Homo sapiens: one gene and its partners. The protein of the gene in region 3 purifies or fractionates together with the protein of the main gene of each other region. This does not show direct contact. Each region holds a gene or a part of one and is shown on either strand. Other genes may lie near its edges.

Region 1 (3,919 bases), on a different chromosome or scaffold from region 3:
TGCAATATAAACATTCACACATTTGCCCAAGTACCAGGATGTTCATTGCAGTAATGTTTAAAACACGGAAAAATTGGAAACAACCCAAGTGTTCAGCATCAGGGGAAAAGCCCTCCACTTTATTTTCTTCATAGCACTATTACTACTATCTGAAATTATATTAATTTATCTACTTGTTTATTATCTAGGAAATCAGCTCATCTAGGAAAAGGAAAGCAAAGAGACTGTATTTATATAATACTTGTTTGGCTAAAATTCTTAGAAATAATACCTTTTCTTCTAAAACAACAAATCAGAACAGACACCATTCCAGATTTTAATAACATGAACCCACCAGAGGGCCCACATAAAGGCCTGTAGGTTTGCAGACAAAGGCTGAGAAACACTGCCCCTGATGAAGTGTCTAAACTTGCTATCTAGATAGACTGTCACTAGATGTGGCCTGTTTGCCCTTTTAAGGCCTGGGGCATTTCTCAGTAGAATCAACACACTCTTCATTACACAGAACCCTCAATTGCCTTTAATACTTGGATCTCAATACTGCTGCCAGCACCCAGTGAGCCTCCACTCATTGAGGGCCCACCATGGGAAAGGGGTCTCAACCTTCTACTAGAAGAATACCAAGACTGCCAAGATGTATCATGTTGAGAGAAGACAAAATGCTAACAGCTGGGCCACAGTGCTTGATGGAAGACTTGGCATTGGTAGGAGCACATCAGTACTCACAACAGCAGTATTCTGGGGCCCAATCCCCAAGGCTGTAAAATAGGAAATATGCCTACGATCTACAAAATGGAAGGGATAAGTGGCCCTTGCTAGGATTCCTAAGCCCTTAATGACATTTCCATTCACAACCACTAATCTCTGCTTTTTATTTCTAATCTCACAGAGAAGCAGTTTTCAAGCTGCTTTTTCAACTGGAGGAACTCTGTTCAAATGAAAGTGTAAGATGAATAAACAAACAAGAGGAAGGGGATAGCCTTAGTGCTCAGTCTAGGGGGTTGGGGTGGGAGGATACCCCTCCCTTTTACCCCAAAGTGCTGAGAAGCAGAGTTTGAAAGGGAAGGGAGACAGAGAACGAGGGAGGAAGCTTTACTAGGAGAAACAAAGGTCCTGTGGAAGGAACATACCTGGCTTGTTGGAAGAAGAAAAAAGTCCCCTTTTTGACTGGGACAAAGCAAGCACAGGGAAGAGCAGTAACAGATGAGGTCAGAAAGACAAAGAGGAGTTCAGATTATGTAGGGGCCTTGTAGGAAAGTGTAAAGCCTCTGAGTGGATAACTTACTTTTAACAAGATTCCTCCGGCTGCTGAGTTGGGAATAGGCCGTCAGAGAAGGACATAAGCAAGGAAAAGACGTTACTGCAGTTATTTCCTTCCTAACTTGGAGATATACATTTGGTAGTCAGCATGTAGTTGTTGGTGTATAGATGGTATTTAAAGTCATGAGACTGACTGAAATGCCAAGGAAATAAGAGTCAATAAGGAAGAATGGAGTATTAATGAGCCATGTAATGCTCCAACTTTTAGGCGTCAGGAAGATCATGAGGAACTAGCAAAAAGACTAAACCTCCAATAAGGTGAGAGGGAAATGCAGAGAATGCAGCAAAGCTAAATGAAGGACGCGTTTCAAAGAAAGAGGAATAATCAACTGTGTAAAATGCTGCTGAAAGGTCAAGTAAGAGGAAGACTGAGAACTGATTCACTAGAGCTAGCAACATGAAGGTCAGTGGTGAGCTTGACAAGAGTGCTTCAGTGGGGGAAGGGGCCTGATTAATGTGGACTCAAGAGAGACTGGTGGAAAAGGAACTGGAGTCAGTGAGTTAGATAACTGTAGAAAACAAATTGAGAGGGGAATGCAAAGTCAAGAGAGTTTGGTCTTATATTAAAAGGCACTATATCTCCGGTATCTAGAACAGTGCCTGGCACATAGTGATAAATTAGTAAGTATTTGTTGACTGAACTAAGTGAGATCACTAGCCATTTAAACAGTCTTAGTTCTGGAAGTTTAAAAGCTGATAGAGTGAAACATGAGGATTCTTGGTCCAATAAGAAGAAACTGCCTTTTAATTTCCTACTATGCCTGAAAACTCTTTAGGGCCTTTAAACACCTAGAATAGACATTCCTCAATATGAGGAATAGCAACAGAATTCAACAAACACATGCCCTACAAGAAAATATACTTTCAATTCTGGATAGCTGCAATCTCTCCAACTACCTCTTGCATCTGGGGCCCTGTGACTTTGGACCTAGGGATACAACATGGATCACAGTCCTTTAGTTACGTCGTGATTCACTATGCACTAAGAGGGAAGATGTGTGGTGGTCCCTGAAGGACATCAATCTATGCGGCCTTGACCAAATGAAAGCTCTATGTGGCATGCCAATAATAATCATGAGTATTTGTTTAATGATATATACTTTTCAAAGTGGTAATACATATATCCTCTCCTATTTAATCTTACAACAACTTTGTGAGGCAAGTGTTTTTATCACTTTCATTTTACAAATAAGAGTCTCAGACTTGCATAAATCACACAGCTCTTTCAACAAATTATGCTGGGATAACTGGATATTCACATGCAAAAGAATGAAGTTGAATCCTTACCTCACATACAATAATTAACTCAAAATCCACCAAATAGCTAAATGTTAAGAACTAAAACTATATATTGCCAGAAGAAAACACAGGAGTAAACTGGCAGGACCTTGGATTTGGTGATAGATTGTCAGATATAATGCCAAAAGCATACACAATCAAAGAAAAAACAAATTCAACTTCACACGAATTAAAAACTTCTGTGCAAAGAACACTAACAAGAAAGTGAAAAAACAGCACACAGTAAGACAGGAAATATTTGCAAATCATAAACCTGATTTGTATCCATATTTACATATGTAAAGAACTCTTAAACTCAACAACCAAAAGACAATCCAATTAAAAAATTGATAAAAGACTTGAACAGACATTTCTCCAAAGATACACAAATGGCCAACACATGAAAAGATGCTCAACGTCAGTAGTCATTAGGGAAATACAAATAAAAATCACAATGAGGCACCACTTCACACCCACTAGGATGGCTATAACCAGAAAACAAAAGTGCTGGCGAGGAGGTGGAGAAACTAGAATTCTCAAAAATTGCTGGAAAAAATGTAAAAGTGTGCAGCATCTGTGGAAAACAGTCTGGGAGTTCCTCAAAAACTTTTTAAACATAGAATTATTTCATAATCCAGCAATTCTATTCCTAGATACATGCACAAAAGAATTGAAAACAGGTATTTAAACAAAAACTTGTAGAAGAATGCTCTTAGCAATACTATTTATAAGAGCCAAAAGGTGTAAACAATCTAAATGTCAACTGATAAACAAAACGTAGTATATCCATACAATGGAGTATTATTCAGCCAAAGAAAGAATGAAGTACTGATACATGCTACAACCTGAGTGAACCTCGTATACATTGTGCTGAATGAAAGAAGCCAGGCACAAAAGGTTACATATTGTATGATTCCATTTATATGAAATCTTCAGAACAGGCAAATCCATATAGACAGAAAGCAAATTGGCGGGTGCCAGACGGTAGGGGTAAAGGGGAATGGCGAGTGACTGCTTAATGGGTACAGGGTTTCCTTTTGGGGTGATGAAAATGTTCCAGAATTAGCGGTGATGGCTGCACAACATTGTGAATGTACATACTGAAGTAACTGATTTGTACACTTTAAAATGGTTAATTTTACCTCAATTAAAAAAAATCACACAGTTCACCCTTGACAAATCCAGGAACTATACTCAGGAACTGACTCCAAGTCCTCTCCCCACTCAGCTATCCTGTTTCCTCCACAAACCAAAGGAGCTCTGGACCACCTTGGTAATGGACTTTTGCCTCTATATACTGCCAGCCAGGCATAGTACCTAA
Region 2 (3,919 bases), on a different chromosome or scaffold from region 3:
AACCCAGGAGACAGAGGTTACAGTGAGCTGACACAGTGCCACTGCACTCCAGCCTCCATGACAGAGTGAGACTCCATCTCAAAAAAGAAGAAAGAAAATGTCTAAAAGCTGCTTGGCCTGTCCCCTGGACTGTTGTCTGGAAGAAAGGTGATGCCTGCAGGCATTCTTGCTGTGGAGTGCACTGGATGTCCCAAGTTGGACATGCCTTTGGAAAGGCCTCTGCCCTGCCTCAGTAACATTCCCTCCTTGAGTACCCTTGTTTTCTATCCCAGGACATCCTCTTTGATGCGAATACACACAAAGTGAAGAAGTTTGTTCTACACACCAATTACCCTGGGCATTATAATTTCAACATGTGAGTACACCTGTCTGTACCTCCCCTCTGTGAAGTGAGTTTTGGGCTGAAAACCCCAGGAAAGAGCTTTTGGCTTTGGGTGTTCACTAATTTATCTACACCTGAATTCTTGCTGTTTCATGGGAAGTGAATTTCCTGAGTGCTTGCTGTGTTCCTGGCACAGGGTCCAATGCCTTACATCTCTCTGTTTGAACCCATTTTACAAATAGGGAAATAAGTTCAGAAAGCTTGATGTCTTATCCAAGGTAATAGGCTCTCCAGAACCCAGGGCCAAGATCTTTTCTGTTCGACTTCCGTGCCTAAATCTGGCCTCCCCCAGTGAACACTGTCAGGCACTCAGAGCCAGGGCTTTGGGCAGGTGTGTTTGGTTCTGTTTCTCCTGGGGTGTGGGGTTGGAATATGGGAGTGGCCAGGCCTTCTAGGAGGCCCAGCCTTTACCCATTTGCCTTCTCTCTAGTTATCATCGCTGTGAGTTCAAGATCCCACTAGCCATAAAGAAAGGTGAGTAGTGAAAGCTCTCAGGGTAAGGGAGGGGTTTTAGAGTCTGTTTTCCACTATGAAAAGGGAGAAAGATCGAAGCAGTGGTTGGATGTGTGGAGCTTCTGCCCATGGCCTCAGTTCCTCTGGGGTGGGCTCATTGTTCTGGGGGCTGCAGTGTTCTTGGTCTGAGTCTCCTAGAGGCCCTTGAGGCCTCTTCCTATGACTGTGGGATTGCCGGCCTCTGGAGGGGAGAGTTTCTTATCTACAGATGATCATCCAGGGGGCCCCAGCCCATCCTTGTTGCCTGCCACCCACTGCCAATTGTTGTTGCTCACACCTGACTGACCTCCCTTCACCCCTCCATCCTCTTCCACCCTGGAACTCCAAAACAGCCTGTTAATCCTCCCCATGTACTCCAACCCCAGTGCAAAGGGACACCAGGTCTGGTTCCTACCTAGGGCTGGGGCCACAGGTAGGCTGGGCCAGCTACAAATCTGCCCCACTGTCTTCTCTTTTCAGAAAACGCAGATGGTCAGACAGAAACATGCACGACCTACAGCAAGGTGAGCACCTATCTTCCTACCTGGCATAGCCTGAGAATGAGGTGGACATGAGCCTGCAGGCAGTATGGGGCTGTGTCCTCTAGGCCAGCCATTGGTCACAGACATGTTCATGTCCCTACTAACCCCTGCTCCCCTCTATCCCTCTTGCAGTGGGACAACATCCAGGAGCTCCTGGGCCACCCTGTGGAGAAGCCTGTTGTCCTGCACAGGTGAGTGGGAGTTTGATGTCCCCGGCCACCCCACCTGACTCCTCAGAGCCCAGAAAGCCCAGGGAAGCCTGGCACAGTGGATGTTGCTTAAAAATTACAGAAGTTTCTGATATTGCCACAAGCATACTTCCTGCCCCACTCTGCACATTAGGACTGAGTCAACTGTTCTGTGTGTTCATCTTTGATAGAGAGAATGTCCCCAGGGGTAGCTCCCCTCTCCCAAGCCTACCTCTAGGTATGGGGGCCTTCTCACCCTCAGTTATTCAATAAGGAAGGAGGGCTTGGCTGGCTGGCCTGGGCTCTTTTTCCCTTTGAGCTTTGAGCTGCTGCCTGCTGAAGTCCACAGCCCCGTTCCTGGTTGCCATGCTGCCTGAGATTCTCTCACTCAAGAGGGCCCTCTTGACTCCTCGCCACCCTAGTCCAGTTCCACAGTAACTTTTTTGTCCTGTTGGGCTCTGTATGTATAATTCTGAGTTGAGTGAGACCATCCCTACCCCTAGGATCTTGCAGGCCTGTGTGGGAAACAGACAGACACTCACAGCCATGAGAGACTACTGGCCAGTATCCCATACCCCAGAAAAGACTGGATCCCTTGCTTTAAGGCCGTGGCCTCTGTCTGCCTCTCTAATTCTGAATTCTTTGGCCTCAGGTCTTCCTCCCCAAACAACACCAACCCATTTGGTTCCACATTCTGCTTTGGTCTTCAGCGAATGATCTTTGAGGTAAGCTGTGGAAGCCCTAGAAATAAACTGCCTGGGGGGTTGCTGGTCATGGCAGGGCCAGGTGAATGATGGAGGGAAATTGGGGAGGGCATCACTGCCATAGTGGGCAGATTCATCCTTCTTCAGCAACCGTGTCTGCTGCATACCTGGCCTCCCCACACTTAACAATGAAGGTTCAGAAATGATGTTGAGAAATCTGGGGTCACAGAGGCCGAAGCAGTGGTCTGTGTCCAACAAGATGGGAGGTAACGGATCCCAAGTTTCTATCTGACAACATGATTATAGCAGGGAAGGGAACCACAGGGCAAGTGGGGCCCAGCAGAGGGTGTTGGGGGCCCTCCAGTGGCATGTGAACAAATGCATTGTAGGGGAGTGAGTGGCTCTGGAGGCCCTGCTGACTTGGGAGAACAGCAAGCTGCCCTTGTTTTCCCTGTGGATGCAGTATCTCCAGCAGACACTTAACAGTTCCAGAAGGACTGGACACGTGGCCATGGTAAAGGCTGTGTGTAACCATTGAGAAACAGGCAGATCTCAGGCAGAGGGGGGCCTTTAGCATGAACCAGGGGAGGTTGAGGAGTCGGGAAACCCAGCCATTAGGTGCAGGTATGTCACACAACCTCCAGCCCTCATGCACAGGATCTGCCTACATCCCTTTACCTCTCCCCCTTGACCCACTGTCCTCTTCTCACACCAGGTCATGCAGAACAACCACATTGCCTCGGTGACCCTGTATGGCCCCCCCAGGCCTGGTAGCCACCTGAGAACAGCGGAACTCCCCTAGGGACACCACCACCCATGCCCCTCTGTCCCGTGGAACTGTGCATCACATCCTGCTCAGTGGGCCTCTGTACCACCCTGTGGGTTTTCTTGGACACCTGGCCAGTGCTGAAGGGCTGTTGTGATGTTCTGAGGTTGGGCTCAGGCTGGGTGCTCTGCCATGGGCTGAGTGGCCCAGATATTCTTCTGTCCATCTTTGGCCTGCTGGTGCCAGCAGGGGACACAGACTGCAAAGAGAAGCACAAAGTTTGAGCCTTGATTCCTGGACCCAGGAGCTCTCAACTAACAAGGAGGCAGGAGAGGTCAACCCTTGTCCCATGCACATTGGGAAGACTTGGGGCTCTTTCTGTGACTGAGGACACAGGCACCCAGGATAAGGACAAGGTCCTGCCTTTGGCTCCACATTGCCACATGACCCTTAAGGCAAGCAGGTAGCGTGTCCATAGTACTTGGTTGCGACATTTGCACTACATCCACTTTAGTTACTTGATGAGCTGGCTGTGGCCAGGGTGGCCCACCTGCCCTTCCCTGTTCCTTTCTTGCACGCGCTCCCTGCCTGGGCACACCAAACTGGTTGAAACACAGCTTTCTACCATCCAGGTACATGCCCAGGCCTGGTTCTCACCCCTGTTGGAGTCAGCTTTCAAGATTGCCTGTGCCCCTGCTCTGCCCCATCCTGGCTGGCAGGGCTGCATGTTTCCATCCTGTTTGCCTCTTTTATTTAATGCCAAAGTTTTAGCCAAAGACATCTTCCTACTTTTGTTGTGTTTCAGCATTCTGTTCTGCACTGTGGGCTGGCTCTCTGCCCCAACC
Region 3 (4,338 bases):
AGTCAAAGACCTTTGCATTTCCCTCCAGCAGAATCAGAAAGTCTGGTAAATGGGAACCACACCCCACAGACTGCAACACGGGGACCCTCTGCCTGTGCCAGCCACAGTTCCCTGGTGAGCTCTATTGAGAAGGACCTGCAAGAGATCATGGACTCACTGGTGCTAGAGGAGCCTGGAGCTGCTGGCAAGAAGCCTGCCGCAACCTCTCCACTGTCACCGATGGCTAATGGTGGGCGCTACCTGCTGTCTCCCCCAACCAGCCCCGGCGCCATGTCTGTGGGCTCCAGCTATGAGAACACCTCTCCAGCCTTCTCTCCACTCTCTTCACCAGCCAGCAGTGGAAGCTGTGCCAGTCACTCACCCAGTGGGCAAGAGCCAGGACCTTCTGTGCCCCCGCTGGTACCTGCCCGTTCCTCCAGCTACCATCTGGCCCTACAGCCCCCACAGTCCCGCCCAAGTGGTGCTCGCTCCGAGAGTCCTCGGCTGAGCAGGAAAGGGGGCCATGAGAGGCCTCCCAGCCCTGGCCTCCGGGGTCTGCTGACAGACAGCCCTGCAGCTACTGTCTTGGCGGAGGCCCGGAGAGCCACTGAGAGCCCCCGGCTGGGTGGGCAGCTGCCTGTGGTGGCCATCAGCCTGAGTGAATACCCAGCTTCTGGTGCTCTCAGTCAACCCACCAGCATTCCTGGCAGCCCCAAGTTTCAGCCTCCAGTCCCTGCTCCCCGAAACAAGATTGGCACACTCCAGGACCGCCCTCCCAGCCCTTTCCGTGAGCCTCCAGGCAGTGAGCGGGTGCTAACAACCAGCCCCTCACGCCAACTGGTGGGCCGAACATTTTCAGATGGGTTAGCCACCCGTACCCTGCAGCCTCCTGAGAGTCCCCGCCTGGGCCGGCGGGGCCTGGACAGTATGCGAGAACTACCCCCCTTAAGTCCATCTCTGTCCCGGCGAGCTCTCTCCCCGCTGCCCACCCGGACCACCCCAGATCCCAAGCTAAACAGGGAAGTGGCAGAGAGTCCTCGGCCCCGGCGCTGGGCAGCCCATGGGGCTTCACCAGAGGACTTCTCCCTGACGCTGGGGGCACGGGGCCGTAGGACACGGAGCCCCTCACCCACACTGGGTGAGTCTCTGGCACCCCACAAGGGCAGCTTCAGTGGCAGGCTGAGCCCAGCCTACAGTCTGGGCTCTCTTACTGGGGCTTCACCCTGCCAGAGTCCCTGTGTCCAGAGGAAGCTCTCCAGCGGGGACTTGCGGGTGCCTGTCACAAGGGAGCGGAAAAATAGCATCACAGAGATCAGTGACAATGAGGACGACCTCCTGGAGTACCACCGGCGACAGCGCCAAGAGCGGCTCCGGGAGCAGGAGATGGAGAGGCTGGTGAGCGGGTGCCAGGGAGGCTTGCCACTGTCCATGGCAGAGTCTCTGCCAGGGCTCGAGCAGGCCAGCTGGCAGAGCAGGAGAGGCCCTCAAACAGGGCTTCGGCTTCTCAAGGTTCCCCACCTCCAGGATACACTTTAGTGATCAATATCTTATGGTTCTGGTGCCGTGAAGAAGAAATTCCTTTGAAATCTCTAAGACTTTATTTTAAATTCTTGCTAATTTTGCATTTATTCAACATAGCATTTGTTTTAATGTTAAATTAAATTTCACATTGTTTACCTGAGCACAGTGAAGCTCTAGGAAAACATACCACAGGTATGGTAAGACCTCGAACCTCCCAGTTTGAGAAGCAGTTGGTGATCATGAGTAGGCTGAAGCTCAGAGAGGGGAATGGCTTTGTCCAAGGTCACACAGCAAGTTCTGGCAGAGCTAGAATTGGAACCCAGGTCCCCTGTCTGACTCTTTCTGAGACTTGTTCTTTAGAAAAGTACCTTGTCCTTCTTTTTTGCTTGTCTTTGGCCTCTACAAGTGGGTGGGAGCTGCTCATCCTGGCCCAGGCAGTATCATCTAGGAGTGCAGGTGGCAGGGTAGAGGGACAGAGCAGGATAGGCAACCCTGGCCTGACCGTTAGCCAGCCTGTGTAATTGTGACTGTGTGTGTCCATGTGCATGCACGTGGGTGCATGCAGGGGCTGGGTGTGGCTCTAGGCAGCTGTCCTGGAGATGGCATCTGAGCTGGGTGGGGGCCAGGATTCCCCAGATAGCTCAGGGAGCTTAAGGGGCTCTGGCTGGTGTGTACACAGTCGAGCCCATGTACAGAAGAATGGATTCTGCCCTCTGTCCCTTACGAGCAGAACAGGGTTCTTTGGAAGGTGGGCAGGAACCCTGGGATTGGTTTGAGGAAGAGAACCAGAACTGATGAGAACCAGAACTGAAGCATCTGGAGATGCTTTTGGAAGAGGTTGGGACAGTTTTGGATGAGGGTATAGGATTGTGTGTTTGTGTTGGATGGGGGTGAGATGAGGCGGATCCCATCTTTTCCTTTGCTGCATCTTCTCTTCACTGTTTTTGCATTGGTCTAGACGGGAATGCATGGCCATTCTAAGCTGGGGTCTCATCCTGGAGAGGGGGCAGTGAGCCTGGCACAGGCAGAGTGGCAGGCACAGCCTCCCCCAACTCCTCCATCAGTTTTCCCACCCCCATTCCCACACATAAGCACACATCTTACCACTAGTCCTGACCTGCCTCACCTGCCACTTTAAGTCTTGGAGGCTGCCCGCCCTGCCCCTCCCACCTCAACCAGGCTGCTTATCTGGGTCCTGGGGCAGGGGTGGAGGCACTGGCCCAGCCTCCCAGGTGCCGAGGCTCTGTTCCGGTTTTTTTTTTTTTTTTTTGCCATGGAACTGGGCAAGCAACAGGAGGGAAGCTGGGTAAGTGTATGAGAACACCTCTCCAGCCTTCTCTCCACTTCCTGCGGTTTGGGTTCATGGCCAAACTGTAAGTGATGAGAGACACTTGAGGAGGTCTAGGGACCCTAGAGAGCCATGGAAGCCTCACAAACCAGGCTTCAGGCCTATAGGTAGGCCTGCGGGAAAAGGCAACAAAGACCAGGAATGTGATTGTGTCATCCCTCCTTTACCTCCTAGGCCCCTGAGAGGTGACTGTATCTGGGTGGGTGTGTATGTGGAGAGGGGTGGATGAAGTGGTAGGGCCATGGGAGTACTCACTCATGGGCCTGGGCATTCAAGGACTGGCAGCAGCCCATCCTGCTGATAAACAGCCAAGGGCTGCCTGAGGGTAACTTGGAGCTGAGGTGGGGACAAAGAGGGCCGTGTCCTTGGTCTACCTCTTCTCCATGTATGTCTGTGGTTGGGTGTCTGGTCCCTGTGGGCTCATGGGTCTGTTTTCCAGCACTGTCTGTCTGCATACATGCCCACCTGTCTGTATGCTAGACTGTGTTTATCTGTGAGTGTGCATCAGTGTGCATTTGTGCATGTCAGGGCTGGTGTCTCTGTACTTGCCTATTAATGCAGGGCCAGGGCACATGTTGTATCCTTGTGTGCCTGTGCATCAGTGCTGGTGTGTCAGTATGTGTCCTTGTGTCTGTAGATCTGTGTGTACCTGCGTCAGGACGAGCAACTGAGTTTATCTGTGTCTCATTGTGGTCTGTAGTCTGCTTAACAGTGTGTTTCTGTATGTGTTTAGTGTGTTACTGTGGGTCCATTTGGTGTGTTCCTGTGTGTCCTGGGGTAGACTGAAAAAAGAAAGGAACAGGAAGATGGAAGGGGCTGTCCCAGAAGTGGGCAGGAAGAACCAGGCTGTTATGCCATGTGGGCATGTGGCACAACAGCCTCGTTCTTCCTGCCCACTTCTGGGGCACCTTGTTTCCCTCTGCCTCCCCTAGGTCTTGGGGTCAGGCCTCTCCTGACTTGACACTGATGTCCTAGCCCCCTGTAACCCTGCTCTCCCTCCTGACAGGATACTGAACCTGGCTCTATCCCCACCAGGGCTCAGCTTCCTCCCCTTCATGTCCTGCTCTGTCCATCCTCCCCAGGAACGCCAGCGCCTGGAGACCATCCTGAACCTGTGTGCCGAATACAGCCGGGCTGATGGGGGACCTGAGGCTGGGGAGCTTCCCAGCATTGGGGAGGCCACCGCAGCATTGGCACTGGCAGGCCGGAGGCCCTCACGAGGCCTTGCAGGGGCCTCTGGGCGGAGCAGCGAGGAGCCTGGCGTTGCCACCCAACGCCTATGGGAGAGTATGGAGCGCTCAGATGAGGAAAATCTCAAGGAGGAGTGCAGCAGCACTGAGAGCACCCAGCAGGAGGTGAGATGGAGGGGTAGGCAAGACAAAGAGGCTGAAGTTGGACCTGCTGGGGGCAGAGGAGGCTGGTGTATCCAATGCCAAGGTCCAGTGAGGGGAAGGATCAAGTTTGGGAAGAGATTAGAGAGCAGAGGTGCA

The links. Proteins that work in one complex are often made in the same cells at the same time.
Region 1: the proteins of PHLDB1 (region 3) and PPP2R3A purify together in Homo sapiens (co-immunoprecipitation; one large-scale study listed by IntAct). This does not show direct contact.
Region 2: the proteins of PHLDB1 (region 3) and PHAF1 purify together in Homo sapiens (co-immunoprecipitation; one large-scale study listed by IntAct). This does not show direct contact.

What each region holds. Positions count from the first base shown.
Region 1 is NC_000003.12:135,971,809-135,975,727, reverse strand, and holds part of PPP2R3A (serine/threonine-protein phosphatase 2A regulatory subunit B'' subunit alpha), read right to left. Parts: intron 1-3,919. UniProt on the Homo sapiens protein: The B regulatory subunit might modulate substrate selectivity and catalytic activity, and might also direct the localization of the catalytic enzyme to a particular subcellular compartment.
Region 2 is NC_000016.10:67,144,022-67,147,940, forward strand, and holds part of PHAF1 (phagosome assembly factor 1), read left to right. Parts: intron 1-272; coding exon 273-355; intron 356-812; coding exon 813-856; intron 857-1,354; coding exon 1,355-1,398; intron 1,399-1,548; coding exon 1,549-1,607; intron 1,608-2,256; coding exon 2,257-2,329; intron 2,330-3,023; coding exon 3,024-3,110; 3' UTR 3,111-3,919. UniProt on the Homo sapiens protein: Plays a regulatory role in autophagic activity. In complex with BCAS3, associates with the autophagosome formation site during both non-selective and selective autophagy.
Region 3 is NC_000011.10:118,627,277-118,631,614, forward strand, and holds part of PHLDB1 (pleckstrin homology-like domain family B member 1), read left to right. Parts: intron 1-28; coding exon 29-1,374; intron 1,375-2,771; exon of another isoform or gene 2,772-2,773; coding exon of another isoform or gene 2,774-2,806; intron 2,807-3,930; coding exon 3,931-4,203; intron 4,204-4,338.